Linked DNA regions of Homo sapiens. The protein of the gene in region 1 interacts with the protein of each later gene in a pairwise test. Each region holds a gene or a part of one and is shown on either strand. Other genes may lie near its edges. The genes, in order: DHX15, DYSF and PINX1.

Region 1 (3,032 bases):
GGTTTTGGTTTCAGGTGGCACATTTAGAACGAACAGGGCATTACTTAACTGTGAAAGATAACCAGGTGGTTCAGTTGCATCCCTCTACTGTTCTTGACCACAAACCTGAATGGGTGCTTTATAATGAGTTTGTTCTAACAACAAAGAATTACATCCGGACATGTACAGATATCAAGCCAGAATGGTAAGTACACCTTTTGTTCTAACAGTTTTTTGTTAGTACTTTGCTCAAAATGGAACCTGACTGTTGCTAGAGTCATGGCCTTGCATTCACTCATTGAGAATTTATATTTCAGTGTGTAGGTATGAGGGAATTGACTGGATGGTGTGATTAATCTTTCACACCCTTCCTTTGTTAAGTGGACAGTGGGATTGTTGATATTTATGGGCAGGATTTGAAGCCAAATGTGAAGTTACATTTGAATAGCATGAAAAGTTTCTTCAGGGGCTGGGCATGGTGGCTCACACCTGTAATCCCAGGACTCTGGGAGGCCAGGATGGGAGGATCACTTGAAGCCAGGGGTTCAAGACCAGCCTGTGCAATATAGCCAGAATCCATCTCTACTAAAAGATATATAGGTGTGTACAAAAATTAGCTGGGCATGGTGGTGCTGCACGTCTATAGTCCCAGCTACTGGGGAAGCTGGGCAGGAGGATTGCTTGAGCCCAGGAGTTTGAGGTTGCAGTGAGCTATGATCATGCCACTGTACTCCAGCCTGGGTGACAGTGAGACCCTGTCTCTCAGACATACTTTTAAAAAAGGGTTTTTTTTTAATTTTTTTAATTTTTAGAGTTTCTTTGGAGCCATTCTCTTGCTGTTGTGATTCTCAAGTCAGTACTGTTTCTTGCTTGCAGAAATCTGTTTTTTTTTGTTTTGTTTTGTTTTTTAACATTTTTTTTGTCCCATTACAATTAGCCCTCAACTATTTATTATTTATATATTGGTTTTTAGGAACTGTGCAGGCATAAAAATGATAGCTCTTTGTGTTTTAACATACTAGCTTCTACAAAATGTAGAGTAAGAACGGATTGTTTTATTTTAAGCAAAATAACCCTCACCTTCATGGTTTTTTGTTTTATTTATGCCAGAATCTATTCTATAACCTATGACAGGAAATGTCAGCCAAGAGTAGTGGGACTGAAGGCACATATTCTAGGTGCTGTCACCGCTTTATATTGTGCAGCTGCTTTCTTATACGGATTTGGGACTTTTGACACTTAAATTGTGTAGGACATTACCATTTTATCTTAAACGCTTTGTTGAGAAAAAAATTATATAGCTAAACTTTATAAAAGATTTCAGTCAAGTGTATTTTGGGGGTATAGAGTTACAGTTATTAAAACATTGAAAATGAAAAGATCCAATCATTTGAATACCACGATGTTTCCTACACAGAACCTGTTATATATTACTATATCCTTGGAGTGGCAAATTAATAGTGTGCCAGAGTAAAGAAATCAGTGACTTTATCTGTTATCTTTACATTAATGTATCTTGAGGGGTTTGTTATTAAGTTTATGGTAAGTCCAACATCAGAAAATTCACATCTTACTAAATAAAATACTTAACACATTTCTAAAAGTGCTATTTGTAAGGATTAGTTATTTGTATTTTTCTGAGACTTGAATTCATAGATTTGCCTTGGTTCATCAGTATATTAATGAATAATGCCTATCCTATTAACAACTCCAGTACTTCAATTAAATGTTAATTTGGAAATTTTTCTGCCCACTTCTAAACAGGTTGGTGAAAATTGCCCCTCAATATTATGACATGAGCAATTTCCCACAGTGTGAAGCAAAGAGACAGTTGGACCGCATCATTGCCAAACTTCAATCCAAGGAATATTCACAGTACTGAATTCAGTGCTTAGAACTGAAGTTATTGAGAGGACAGCTTTAAAAGATGAATGAACTCAAAAGTTCGAGTTGTGCTCTTCACGTTGGTTCGATAATGGCCTTTATTTGAAAGCTTTTTAATTTTTCTTTACAGTAAATATTCCATTCTGATTTCATAAATTAAACATTTATGCCTCCCTTTTGTGTTGACACTGTAGCTCATACTGGAAAAGTCGATCAATGTTTTGCAGTTTATTGAAAGTAGTTCTATATATAACAATGTTATAAGCATTTCTTTAGAAATGGTTGAAAATGCTTCTAAAATGTGATTATCGACCATGGTATGCATGATCGTTGTAATTGTTGACATTCCTTTTAGAAGTTGTGAAATGTTACAACTTGTGCTTATGTAGACACAATCTTCTGTCTCAGTACAGAGGCACTGACTTCAATAAAGTCTATTTATACTAATTTTGGCCAAAGCCCTTTGGTATCTTTGTTCTAGTCTCTAAGTATAGTTGTTTTTCAAGTGTGGAGCTTTTTTATTATTATAATTATACTGTTACTACATATTTAGTATCTTTCTACCAGGAGTACTCCTTAGGAAAAGTAGCTGTTAAAGCAGTATTTTTAAGAGCATGGCTTAGCGCTTTGTTAGGTTAATCAGGATGTGATCGATCTAAAAGGGGTAAAATGTGTGTAGTGATCATTTGAAACTGGACCCCAAAAGAGAGAATAATGAAAGGAGAGCTCTCTACTTGTCTTTCTTAGAGTTCCTTTCATAAGGCTCATAATTTATTAACTACATTTTTGTCAGATGTTTTTATTATACTTCTAGCTTCTCAAACACGTTTATTAGTATTAGGTAAGAGGAAAGCATATTTTAGATCTCAGTTTAACAAAATTCTTAGTGATGGAAGTTTTATGCAGTATACAAAATAATTTGTATAGTGTGTTAAAATGTACATTTGACCTTCCATTTTCTATGACAGGCAGTAGACAAGTTGAAAACTTGTCTACATTCATTTTGGAATGAAAATTGAGGTGTTTTATGTGGCCCATAAAATGTTTTTTAATCAGTTATTTTCATATGAAGACTAAATACTGTACTCATTAGTCTGGACTTCCCTCTTCTTCCCCTCCTACCTTTATAAGTTTTTAAGTGTTAAAGGAAATATATAGGTGTGTGCCTG
Region 2 (3,742 bases), on another chromosome or scaffold:
ACATGCAACCAAGGACACTCTGGGGCCACAAGAACTCTCTCACTCCTCCCATGGGCCTCCTCGCCCATCTTCACACCAGCCAGCCAGGCACAGGCCAGCCAGACGGCCAAGGCCATCTTCCCCTCTGCTTTCATCTTGACACCTCAAAGTAGTAGCAGCAAGTGTTTCAGTGCCAAGGAAGGAGCTTTTTCATTTTAGAAGAACACCCAGACTGGGGCTGCTTTCCCCACATGCCACCCCACAGGTACTGACGCCAGGATGACCAGCCAGCGTTCCATCCAAAAGTCCTAACCTGGGGTCCCTGTGCCTCTCCCACATCAGCCCGAACAGCCCTGGGAAACCAAGATATACCCTACCCAAGCCAGGACAAGTGCAGCCCCACATACCAGGGCCCCCTCAAGGGCAAACACAGCTGCAGGCCCCGTCTTCTCCAGTGGCTCCATGCGACGGCGCCAGCGGCGGCGGCGGAAGGCATCTGTCTTGCGGTACTCGAGGTGGAACTTCCAGCCAAAAAGAGAGGCGTACTCCCAGCCCTCGCCCTCCGCCTCCGCCTGCCTGTGCTGCACAAGAGAAGGGGCAGACTCAGAGGCCGGTGGGAAGGCTGGGGGGAGTTCTGTGCTCGGCTCCACCTTTGCCTTCCTGTCTTCCATGACAACTCCCCACCAGCTCCCACACTAGTGCCCTCCAGGTGGGAAAACCTGGGAGGGCCACCTAGAGGAGAGGGGCTTTCTGCAGCCACAGGAACCCCAGGTCAGAAAATCAGGAGGGGAGGCCAGGCATGGTGGCTCATGTCTGTAATCCCAGCTACCAGGGAGGCTGAGGCAGGAGAATTGCTTGAACCTGGGAGGTGGAGGTTGCAGTGAGCCGAGATTGCGCCACTGCACTCAAGCCTGGGTGACAGAATGAGACTCCATCTCAAAAGGAAAAGAAAAAAAGAAAAAAGAAAAAGAAAAATCAGGAGGGGAGAGGAGGCTCCATGGGCTGCGGGAAGAACCAAACAGCCAGAAAGGAAGGTAGGCTGACGCAGTGACGAAAACACTGGGCTTTTAACTTGCTTATTTGTTTGAATTCTGGGTGGATTTCATGAATCCAAAGTTTTCTTGTCATTTCCTTTTTCATCTTCACATCCTGTAGTGGGTCTGCAGCTCAGAGGTAAAAGGAAGATCCTATTTCCCAACCACAGCCAATTTCACCCCTGGGAGCTAGACCCAACTCAGCTATGGAGGCACCCCTGTACCTCGTTCATGGGGTCCCTTTCCTGGGCCTGAAGGGAGTCCCGGGAGCCCCCTTGCCATTCAGCTCCTGGGAGAGGGTGACCTGGCACTGTTGTCAGACACCACCTCAGGTCTGGGCCAGGAGCACAGTGACAAGGGCCAGTCCTGGAGGCCAGCTGTGCCACTCTCCAGGAAGGATGCTGGCTGTGGGGTGGTGGGCAAGGCACATGAGCCTGGGCAGGCTTTGCCTCTGTCTGCTGGGTGCCCCTTCAGGGAGAAAGTTGAATCTGTCTGGTTCACAGCACCAGGAACAGCTGGTTGTCCAAAAGCCTTGCCCCTCCCTGGAGCCAGCAAGAGTCCTCTCTAGGTTCTCTGCCCCCAAGGAGAAAGGAAGGAACCTAGGTCATGCCACAGGCTACTCCTGGACTAAGGGAGGTCTGGTTCTTGAGCCAAAATTCAAATGTGTGTTTAGGAAGGAAGATCATAGACCAAGAAGGTCCAGGACAGGCGGGCACAGAGGCTGTGCAGTGCACAGGCCCCTGTGTGACCCCGGAGCAAGTGCATGTGCTTGCGTGTGCTCATCCATGTGCACGATGGGCCTGACAGTATCCCATGGCATCTGTGCTCAACTGTGGGCATGTGTGCTTGCATTGCATGAATGCCAACGGGGCCCACCCCAGCCCCCTCACCAGCCAATGTACACGTGTGGCGCACCCATCCCCAGCTGCCATCAGCATCGACAGCTCCCAGCTCCCAGAAGCCACCTGCTCCAGGGAACCCCCATGCTAAAGGAAACCCCCTCACTGAAGAGATAGGTATGTGCCCCAGCTCACCCCAGCAACCCCAAGCCTAGACAGATGGCTGAGAGGATACAAAGCCCAGCCCTGCCTCCAGGTGAGGATTCTGTGGTGTTCCGAGTTGTGAACTTCCCCAGGCCACAGCTCAGGCCACAGCTGACCTGCCTGAAGCTGCATCCTTGCTCCTCACACTCCCGAGGGCACTGCCCCAATAATGTGCAGCCAAATCTACGTCTTAGCTTCTGCCTCCAGGAAACCCAGCCTAAGACAAAGTCCATGGGTGTCTTTCCATCTTCCAGGTTGGTGTGTGAACTTTGCATGTGACCTTCTGTAATCATGGGCATCTGAGTGTGTCTGTCTATAAGCATCTGTGGGTGTGCTGGGTGTGATCTGTGCTGGGTGTGATCTGTGGGTGTGCTGGGTGTGATTTCTGTGTGCTGGGTGTGATCTGTGGGTGTGCTAGGTGTGATCTGTGCTGGTTGTGATCTGTGGGTGTGCTAGGTGTGATCTGTGCATGTGCTGGGTGTGATCTGTGCTGGGTGTGCTGGATGTAATCTGTGCTGGGTGTGCTGGGTGTGATCCATGCTGGGTGTGATCTGTGGGTGTGCTGGGTGTGATCTGTGCTGGGTATGATCTGTGGGTGTGCTGGGTATGATCTGTGGGTGTGCTGGGTGTGATCTGTGTGTGTGCTGGGTGTGATCTGTGGGTGTGCTAGGTGTAATGTGTGTGTGCTGAGTGTGATCTGTGCTGGGTGTGCTGGATGTGATCCATGCTCGGTGTGATCTGTGGGTGTGCTGGGTGTGATCTGTGTGTGATCTGTGCATGTGCTGGGTGTGATCTGTGTGTGTGCTGGGTGTGAGCTGTGTGTGCTGGGTGTGATCTGTGTGTGGTGGGTGTGATCTGTGCATGTGCTGGGTGTGATGTGTGTGTGCTGGGTGTGAGCTGTGTGTGCTGGGTGTGATCTGTGTGTGTGCTGGGTGTGATCTGTGTGTGCTGACTGTGATCTGTGTGTGTGCTGGGTGTGATCTGTGTGTGCTGACTGTGATCTGTGCATGTGCTGGGTGTGATCTGTGGGTGTGCTGGGTGTGATCTGTGTGTGATCTCTGCATGTGCTGGGTGTGATCTGTGTGTGTGCTGGGTGTGAGCTGTGTGTGCTGGGTGTGATCTGTGTGTGGTGGGTGTGATCTGTGCGTGTGCTGGGTGTGATGTGTGTGTGCTGGGTGTGAGCTGTGTGTGGTGGGTGTGATCTGTGCGTGCTGGGTGTGATGTGTGTGTGCTGGGTGTGATCTGTGTGTGTGCTGGGTGTGATCTGTGTGTGCTGACTGTGATCTGTGTGTGCTGGGTGTGATCTGTGTGTGCTGACTGTGATCTGTGCATGTGCTGGGTGTGATCTGTGGGTGTGCTGGGTGTGAGCTGTGCGTGTGCTGGGTGTGCTAGGTGTAATCTGTGTGTGCTAGGTGTGAACTGTGGGTGTGCTGCATGTGAACTGTGGGTGTGTTGGGTGTGATCTGTGTGTGCTGAGTGTGAACTGTGGGTGTGTTGGGTGTGATCTGTGTGTGTGTGCTGGGTGTGATCTTTGGGTGTGCTGGGTGTGATCTGTGCATGCGCTGGGTGTGATCTGTGGGTGTGATCTGTGTGCTGGGTGTGATCTGTGTGTGTGCTGGGTGTAATCTGTGTGCTGGGTGTGATCTGTGTGTGTGCTGGGTGTAATCTGTGTGTGTGCTGAGTGTG
Region 3 (3,500 bases), on another chromosome or scaffold:
GTTTCTCCATGTTGGTCAGGCTGGTCTCAAACTCCCGACCTCAGGTGATCCGCCCGCCTCAGCCTCCCAAAGTGCTGGTATTACACCGTGCCCAGCCAAGCTTACATTCTTATCTGTGTTTCTACTGAGTTCAACTGTGATCGTAAATATCAAGATGTTTTCTGTGTATAATTAGTAAGGAATAGTGTCCTTGAACTTTACTACTTCATAGATCCTGCATTTCCTAATATGAGTCATTCAGTATTTTCAGAAAACATTTTCCTTATCTTTTTCTTCTGCTAATAAATTATTGCCCTTCATATTAGGACCACACACAGAACTGTTAGGTTATTTCAAAATCATGATCCTATGGATAAGGAAAACTGTCCAAGTTATACATTCCAACAAAAAGTCCAATCTGGTTAGAAAAAATACCAACAAAGCACCTTTCCCTTCACACTGTTGGGCTCACTTCCACACACGTCACTGCAATAAACCTTCCTATGGTTAGATGTGTGCTGTGATTTTACCAGGTAATTACCAGCATATTCTGCTAGCTACCTCCAAGCAGGACTGTGTCTTATACCTCTGCAGATCCTCACACCTAAACTAGTACCCAGCACACAGCTCAATAAATGTTTGCTGAACTCAAGTCTAATTCATTATTTCACTCCACAAAATTCTTTCAATCTACCAAATATCTTTTGATTATTCACACATGACACACAAGGAATAGACTGTTCATAAACAAGAATGTTTATAAAAATGCTTGCAGATTACAACAAAATCCAATTAAAAAATGGGCAAAGTACTTAGACACTTCTTCAAAGAAGATATAAAAATGGCCAATAAGCGATGAAAAGATGCTTAACATCAGTCATTAGGGAAATGGAAATCCAAATCACAATGAGACATCATCTCACACCCATTAGGATGGCTATTATCAAAATTATAAAAGATAATTACTGGTTAGGATATGGAGAAATTGGAACTCTTATGCACTGTTGATGTAGCCACTACAGAAAACAGTACGGCAGCTCCTCAAAAAGTTAAAAATAGAACTACTATATGATCCAGCAATCCACTCCCAGGCATTACCCAAAGGAAAGGAAATCAGCATGTTGCAGAGGTACCTGCAAACCCACGTTCACTGCAGCACTATTCACAACAGCCAAGATATGGAATCAACCTAAGTGTCCACCAACACATGAACTGGGAAACATGTGGTGCATACACACCACGGAATACTATTTACCCTTACGAAAGAATGAGAGTTTTTCATTTGAGGCAACATGGTTGAGTTTGGAGGACATTAAGTGAAATAAGCCAGGCACAGATAAATATCACATATTCTCGTTCATATGGAAAAGCTAAAAGAGTTGAGCTCATAAAAGTAGACAGCAGAATAGTGGTTATTAGAGCTGCGTAAGGAAAACAGCTATGTAGGAACAGCTAAAGATTGGCTAATGGATATAAAAGTCCCACTACATAAGAGGAAAAAGCTCTAGTGTTCTATAGCACTGTAGGGTGACTATAATAAATAATATTTTATTTTATATTTTCAAATAGCTAGAAGAACAGATTTTAAATGCTCCCAACACAAATAATAAATGTCTGAAGTGATATATATGCTAATTACGTTGATGAACATAACACATGTGTACATTACAAATTGTGCACAGGTATTGACATATCACACTATACTCAATAAATATGTATAATTATGTGTCAACTAAAAATAATAAAAGCAAAAAACAAAAAGTAGATAAACATATTTGCATTGAGAACTTATGTCATCTGATTTCCCTACCTGTGGTTTCCTGCCCATGGCAAGTGTTCAGTTCGGCCAGAAGCTGGTTAAAATCATCCTGATGGGCAATCCAGTTGTCCTGAAAATATCAAAGAAATGAACGAGAGGTAAGCCTGTAGTTTACTTACACTGACTGAGATGATACATTTTGGAATCAAGGAAATCCAGTGGTTAATTAAGAAATTTTAAATGTTCCATCAAAATACTATTTGATAAATTTAAGTGGATTCAAGAAATAATATAAAGTTAAAATGCTCTTTATCCAGGTCAATATTAAAAAGGGGCTTCCTGGAAGCTTAAGGCCTGATTTCAAATGTGAATGACTTATCGATCAAGTCAATATATAGTAAATAATCAACAGGCAACCTGTGTGCTAAATGTTAAAGTAAAACATAATGAAATGACTATTTTTTTCTCACTAGGGGAAATTCCATAGTTGAAAGGACAAGAACCATGCGGGACAAAAAAATGCTCTTCTTTGCTTGGTAGAATTAAAATCTTCTAATGACTTGCATCAACTCCAATTTTACAAAACTCTGAGGAAGGGGAGGAGGAAGAACCTTAAGTCCCCTGAATCGATGAGTTCCCATTTGTAAGGTGGTTACCTAATAAGTTTATTATAAAAAAATGAACCTGGCTTTTATAAGAGAATGAAGATCTCCCAAACCAGTGGGAAGCAGGGTTTCAGTGTACGAATCTGCCTTACTCACATTCTTAGCAATTTTTAAGAATGCTTAAGGTAAAGGAATATGAAATAGGTTTACTGGGCAATGCTTCTTCTAAGAAAATAAGTATATCTGTGTTATCTATCCCTCAACAACTACATTTGAAATCAACTTTATATAAACTCTTTCTTTAGTGGCTAAAAATTTTAGCTCCGCCAATCCACTACTCAGAGATACGGAACTAACCAAAGTAATTCAATTTACCTAAAGTAATTTCCCAGATTCCCTACCAGATTATGTTGGCTGCAAAAACTTAGAAACAAAACTTTTCAGTTTAGATCCTTTCCAAAAGGGAACAATGATACTAAAAATAAAAAGCGCGGTAGGCCACTGACTCTGAGTTATAGTGCCATGCATTCAAAGCGTCAGTGTTCAAGAGGAAACGTGAATAAAAAGAAGTGCTGCACCAATGGTCAGAAGCAGATGAACCAATCAACTTTCAGATTTACAAGACTGAAGCCAATTATGCAAAGACACCCAGGAGGCACACACTGCTGCTCACTTCATTATTGATGGTAGCTCCGAGTCCCAGGTGGTTATTTTTCACTTGAACTTTAATATGATCTGTGGCTCCTTGCTCCTGAGCCCCTAAACCCTGTGGAGATTAAACACAGAGAGTTAGAACATTCCTCTCACTGATACTCAGAAGCAGAGCACTGCTACAAAACTCACAGATGCCTACGGCAGGTGTTCTGAGTTGATGATTCTCTCCATTAAATACTTTCACAAAGCAACATGGGGGAGGACTCTAAGTCCTCTGCATCAATTAGCACTCATCTGTAAGATTTTCCAGGTAAGGAAAGATCAAGTGCAAAGACCCGAAGGTGGGAAAAAACTCAGTGTACTGGGAAACCTCAGAGGCACCCAGGGTGGCTTCTGCAAATTAAGGAATGAAGGAAGTAGGATGACGGAGGGGCTAGATCTCACATAACCTACGGGAGGAATTTGGATTTTATTTTAAAGACAATGGAAAACCACTGGTCTTT

The links.
Region 2: the proteins of DHX15 (region 1) and DYSF interact in a two-hybrid assay, tested with the Homo sapiens proteins (one large-scale study listed by BioGRID and IntAct).
Region 3: the proteins of DHX15 (region 1) and PINX1 interact in a two-hybrid assay, tested with the Homo sapiens proteins (one large-scale study listed by BioGRID and IntAct).

What each region holds. Positions count from the first base shown.
Region 1 is NC_000004.12:24,526,753-24,529,784, reverse strand, and holds the end of DHX15 (ATP-dependent RNA helicase DHX15), read left to right. Parts: intron 1-14; coding exon 15-184; intron 185-1,743; coding exon 1,744-1,861; 3' UTR 1,862-2,310; downstream 2,311-3,032.
Region 2 is NC_000002.12:71,571,016-71,574,757, reverse strand, and holds part of DYSF (dysferlin), read right to left. Parts: intron 561-3,742; coding exon 387-560; intron 1-386. UniProt on the Homo sapiens protein: Key calcium ion sensor involved in the Ca(2+)-triggered synaptic vesicle-plasma membrane fusion.
Region 3 is NC_000008.11:10,829,876-10,833,375, forward strand, and holds part of PINX1 (PIN2/TERF1-interacting telomerase inhibitor 1), read right to left. Parts: intron 3,110-3,500; coding exon 3,017-3,109; intron 1,869-3,016; coding exon 1,790-1,868; intron 1-1,789. UniProt on the Homo sapiens protein: Microtubule-binding protein essential for faithful chromosome segregation. Mediates TRF1 and TERT accumulation in nucleolus and enhances TRF1 binding to telomeres. Inhibits telomerase activity. May inhibit cell proliferation and act as tumor suppressor.